Linked DNA regions of Homo sapiens: region 2 is linked to region 1. The links come from fine-mapping of genetic effects on gene expression. Tissue or cell type: ileum. Region 1 holds a variant in brackets; the other region holds the start of a gene. All regions are shown on one strand. Distances are from middle to middle.

Evidence for each region. PIP is the estimated chance that this variant, and not a neighbour inherited with it, causes the effect.
Region 2: LINC02883 starts here. The variant in region 1 is the best candidate, but not a certain one, in a credible set for the expression of LINC02883 in ileum (GTEx, PIP 0.64).

Annotation. Positions count from the first base shown.
Region 1 is chr15:85,679,454-85,682,367 of GRCh38, reverse strand. It overlaps AKAP13 (A-kinase anchoring protein 13), which reads right to left. Exons shown (of 37, transcript NM_007200.5): 15 at 156-210. Among named protein-coding and RNA genes, the nearest start is that of LINC02883, 78 kb to the left of the region's middle. The variant C/T (reference allele first, on the strand shown) is at 1,645.
Region 2 is chr15:85,757,328-85,760,241 of GRCh38, reverse strand. LINC02883 (long intergenic non-protein coding RNA 2883) reads left to right here and starts at 1,517. Exons shown (of 6, transcript NR_120366.1): 1 at 1,517-1,731; 2 at 1,894-1,991; 3 at 2,253-2,358. KLHL25 (kelch like family member 25) reads left to right here. Exons shown (of 3, transcript NM_022480.4): 3 at 1-916.

The sequences.
Region 1 (2,914 bases):
CATGACAAAACCACTTTTAATCATTATTCCAAGTTTATCACTCAAAGAAGAACCCAATAAGCTCAATTAACTTAGTTTACGTAATTAAATGGCCTAAGAGATTTTAAATTTTCTTCATTTTATTTCTGGAAAAAGGAGTAACAAATTTATAGTACCTCTCAGTCAGATTAGCACTGGTATTGTGGAAGGTACTGTGGAAGGGCCGTGAATCTAGAAAACAAGGCAGAAAAAAAGTTAGAACCAAAAAATTTAACACTGATGCCGGGTAGAATATTTATAAATTCACAATGACACAGCTAAAGCAAAAACAGCGTGTGAAAGTCAGCACATGGTACCTCCTCCTTCTAAAGGTTTGAAAGAAGGAAAAATTAAACTTGAAACCCTCAAATTAGAACCAGAAGTAGGTAGTGAATTTCTCATGAAGAAAATAAGTTTAATCCAGGATTCAAGTAACTAAAAAGACTCCAAATAACTTTTTCTAATGCTTAAACACATATGAAGCATGTTTAATTCCAGTTCTTATCAATCTTCAGTTTGCACAAACCATCCTTCTGAGATGACATCATAGGAAGAATATAGAATAGGAAATTAAATGTCATATTTTATCCGTTAATACTGCTTTTATATGTTTCTATAAGATCTAGCTCATCTCTAATATTTTCATGAGAATTGCTAGAAATAGATTAGCAAACAGGAAAGAGCATCAGAGCTGGCTTATCAAGTCTTCGCCCTGTCACTAATTTGGGATGAGACCTTTGGATTTCATTTCCTCATCTGTGAAATGAGGGAGATAAAACAGATGGCAAAGTCCTTTCCAGGCTAATAGAGATAAAAATGAATGAGGCAGATGCGTACTTCTTCCTTCCACAACCACTGGACCATAAACTGCCGCAGGTCATTAAAATTCTAAGACTATGTCAGATAGGGCAATATGAAGAAAAAATAGAAGGAATATTATTATTTTTATCTACCACATGTTAATAAAGATTGAGTTACTGAAGACTTAGATGAGAGCAAGACCTCAGTCACAGTGATAAATGATTTTCAATTTTCAGGACATCAGTTATAGAACTATTTCCATGTATATTCCAGGGAAACAAAGGTTACTCTGTAACACTATTTTAACGATTTAGACAAAACACCTTCCTTTTTCCTTGAGGTTGGTTTCAAGGATCTCTGAGATTACTGTAAGCAAAACTTTAATCTGATAGAGATTTGAAGATGTTCTACTACCAGACTACCAGCATTTGGGCCAGGCGCGGTGGCTCATGCCTGTAATCCCAACACTTTGGGAGGCAGAGGCAGGCAGATCACTTGAGGTCAGGAGTTTAAGACCAGGCTGACCAACATGGTGAAACCCCTTCTCTACTAAAAATACACAAATTGGCCAGGCGTGGTGGCGCATGCCTGTAGTCCCAGCTACTCGGGAGGCTGAGGCAGGAGAATTGCTTGAACCCAGGAGGTCGAGGTTGCAGTGAGCCGAGATTGCGCCACTGCACTCCAGCCTGGGTAACAGAGCGAGATTCCATCTCAAAAACAAAAACAAACAAAAAAACTCCCAGATTACCCGCATTTGAAACTCTTCAACTCTCAAACTGTTCCAGATTCTGAACAGAAATCCAAAACTGTAGTTATTATTTTTAT[C/T]TATTATTGTTACAAATTTTTTTTAGAAACAGGGACTCGCCATGTTGCCCAGGCTGGTCTTGAACCCCTGGGCTCAGGCAATCCTCCTGTCTCCGCTTCCCAAAGTGCTGGGATTACAGGGGTGAGCCATTGCACCTGGCTAAATTTAAATTGCCAACAGGTAGGAATAATACATAAGAAACCTTAAAACAAATTCTAAGTCTTCAAAAGATTGCCTTCCGTATTTTTTTCCTTTTTCCCAGTTTAGGGTTCTTCTTCTGTTCATTTCACTTACAACACATGGTAACAACAGCCAGGTAAGAGGGAAAGATTAGCAGCATAAGAATATCTGGGATCCATCCCCAGGTTCTGCATAATCTAGGTGTAAAATATCAGCATTTTAATCTTATGATGCATTAGTGTACTTAAAAAAAAAATCAAGAGGATAGTTTAAATCAGTGGTTTTAAAACCTTTTCTGCCCAAGGAAACTTCAGTGATAGGAGCAGCATTAAATTTTCTAAGCTTGCCTGGATTCTACTATACATTTAAGCAATTACCTAGTAAGTTACCACCCTAGTAATATGAACTAAATAAAAATAAAATTCATAATGCAGAAAAATACCAACCAACACAAAGCAGGGCCAATCATAAGCTTCCAGCAGATATGTGTGGAATAAATTAAAGACTGAACACATATGTGATTGAGTACTAGGAGAATCTATGACTCCTATAATATTTTCAACTTTTCCACTGCTAAAAATTTTAGTTAAGTTATGATGACCTTTTAGATGTGGTTCTGAACACAGTAATTAATCCACCAATGCCTCTGAAATTCCTAAAGTATCATCAAGTTTTCAGAGCACCTAAGGGTAGAAAACAACCAATGCTACTTCCATGACAAAATTATGGACAAAATAAATGAAACGAAACGAAACTTGTCATTAAAGTTAGCCTGCAAAGTATTATTGTGGGTAAATAATATATTTCAACTAGATTATCTTTCAAGGCATGAAATAACCTGCAGATTTATACTACAGCCAGGAACTTCAGGGTGGAACTACTGGATGGACACAGTTGATATTTTTCAGAGTGTGTTCCGTGGAACACCAGTTTCATGAAATGTTGTATACAGTGCTGCACATATTGTGGTTTTCTAGTTAATACATTTGGGAGAAACAGTATATTGAACACTGCCTTGAAAATCCACAACGTAACACAACGTTAGCATTTTAAACCTGCTTAACCCAGAGTTTCCTAAATTTACTAATATTTGGCCATGAACCAACCCCT
Region 2 (2,914 bases), 78 kb before region 1:
GCAGTGACCCCCATGGCACACACCTGCCAACAGCACTGGGGGCTTCTCCCCAGGAGACCACGCTGCCCTCCAAGACCAGGAGCAGCTGTGAGCTGGAGACAGCAGAGGGACCCCAGGGTGTCCCCTGCAGATCCCACCAGGGCCGCATCCATCTCAGTGTGGAGGACAGTGACGGGACCCTCACCATCCTCTTGCGTTTTGGCCCCCATTTGCTCCCTGAGCTCCAAGATAAGAATGGCCCCGAGAGAACTGCTGAACATTTGTTCATTGCTGTCACCTCCTGAGTCACTGGGGTCCCTCACCAGCACCTCCCTGACACCTGGGCTATGGAGAGGTTGGCGCCTGTCAGTGACCATCCTAATGCCTCTCGCTCACTCCCAAGCCACCATTTGAGAGGGAGGGGTGTTGGTGCCCTGACAGGGACTGGGCAGGGTGTCCAAACTTGGGGCTTCCCAGGCACCTGCAGTGTGAACACTGCTTGGCTGGCTCAAGATTAGGGCCGCGGAGGGGGCTGTGCACATACCAGTTACTTAAGCAGCCACGAGTGTCCCCCATGCCTTGGTGCGGGTCCTGGAGGCCTCTTGGGGGTGGGACCTTTGGGCAGGGTTTGCCCACTGACACGCCCGCCATGGGGCACTGGCTGCATGGGGCTCCTTGGACCCTGTAGACCCAGCAGACCCCGCCTGTGTCAGGCCAGCTGCCCGAAGGCACTTGGCTGTGGTCCCAGGGGACGGCTCTGCTGGCACACTCAGGAGCCTGGCCGCGGGGACTGCAGGGAGGGTGCCTGGACCCGTGGGGTTGCTTCATTGAGATAAAGCACACTTATCACATAGCACAAAGGACGTGCCATGGTGCTTTCCCCAAAAGTTGTGTTGCTTTTATCAGTTTTCTAACTTAATAAAAAGAGTTGAGAAAATTCTTTGCCTGCCTTGTGTGCTGGGATCAGTCTTGGAGACATTGCTGGTGGCTGACTTTGGTCTTGTCCCACCAGCCAAGGCTCAAGGCCTGCCTGCTGGCATCTGCCCCTCTCATGAGCTGGGAAGGGGGAACCCACCCAGATGAGAGGTCTCCCCATTCCTGTGCCTCCTGAAGTTGCTTTAGAAGCCATGAAGTTGATTCCGTGGAGAGTCCTGATCCTGTCTGCCCCTCCTGAGAGTGATTCTCTCCTGGAAACTCTGGTAAATAGAAGTTGGGAATGTAATTCCATCCATTCGAAAAGGCAGAACCTCCAGTTGATGCTCCTTTGTCTGAAAATAACCCGAGCGCCATTCAGAGGGGCGAAATGGCTCCAGGAGGCAGCTTCACGGCCGCAGCGCCAGCTCACGGCACCGTTGCGCCCACTGGTTGCACCGTGGGCCCTGGGCTACCTGCCCTCCTTGTGCGTTTTCATAGTCACCATGAACCTCATGAGCTCAAGCGTATGCTCACGGGTAAACATCGTGTTCTGTGTTTTGTGATCTCACCTTCAGGCGCCCCTCAGACAGCGGGCAGCCCGAGAAGGTCATGCCGTGGCGCAGCCTGCGTGCAGGGTGGCTCTGCTGTGAACAGGAACCCGGAGGTGCCCCAGCACGGTGGCTCTCAGCAGTGGCTTCCGTGGTGCTCAGTGGTGTGCTGGCCCACAAAATCCAAATAGCGCCTTCACAGTGTAAGAAGTGCTTCTGATGCTGGCGTAGGGGCATGACGCCAGATTCCTTAGAAAATGGAATGATCTTGAGCGGGTGTGTCTCAGAGGTGAGTATGGTGCGTGTAGAAGAGCCAAGAGCACAGAGGGCCTCGTCCCTCCCCCTGCCCAGAGGTGCAGCCCTGGGAGGGGCATCCTGGGACTCTGCCTCGCACTGTCTGCTCCTGTAGCAGTGGTGGGGACCACAGGTGAACGCTACCACTTCCACACAGGCCTGAGCGCTTCACTCTGGGCATCCAAAGCCAGGAGTTGGCTCCAGCTAGAGTCCAGACAGCAGCAGAGGTGAAGTTCCCTGTCACACAGTCACAGGGTGAGTGTGAGCCAGCTGTGGCCCACAGGGCTCCAACTCTCTCCCCCTCTCTCCCTCTCTCTCCAACTCCCACCCCCTCTCTCCCTGCCCTGCCGTCTTCCATGCAAGGCAGCGGTTTCCTGGTCCACCCTGGCCTTCGCAGCCCCGGCCATCCCATCTGCATTCCAGCCAGTGGAAAGGGGAGGAGAGAAAGTGATGGGCAAGCCTGTTTTAAGGGCATGTCCCAGAAGTTGCACCATAACTTCTCCATTTTCCCAACAGCTAGAACTCAGTCACATCCACGCCTGACTGCGAGCGGGACTGGAAAGTGCCCCGAGGAAACTCCAGGACTCCAACGCCAAGTAAAGGGAGCGTAGATATTAGACAGGTAGCAGCCTCTTCCTCTACATGCTGGGTCAGGGGTTGGAAGGAACCTGGGCACACCGCCCTGCCTCCCGCTTCTCTGGGAGCATGCAGAGCCGTCATCTGCCAAGATCCTGGCTCTTGTCAAACCCTTCTTGTCAAGCAGTTGTCAAGCCCACTGGCCAGTGCTTTGCATAACTACCTCCTTTAACCCTCACAGTGACCCCCGGAGGTAGACATTCTTGTCCTCTTCTTGCTGATGAAGAAATGGGTCCACAGGTCACAGTAACTTGCCCAATGTCTCATGCTGGAAAGAGGAGGAGGAGGAGGAGGAAAAAACACGGTTGCAACTGACAGAATGTGGATTTGGAGCTAGGCCCACCTGAGTTTGGGTTCAAGCTCTCACGTGTGGCTCTCATGTATGTGCAAGCTTGGTTAAACCACTTGATTCTCTGATACAGACTTAATGATAGTAGGGTTAAAAGTTGAGGTCAAATTCTATAAAGCACTAAACACCAGGACCAATGCCCAGATAGCCCTTTACAGGGGGAGAATGGCCGCCACATTACAGCAGTGGAACT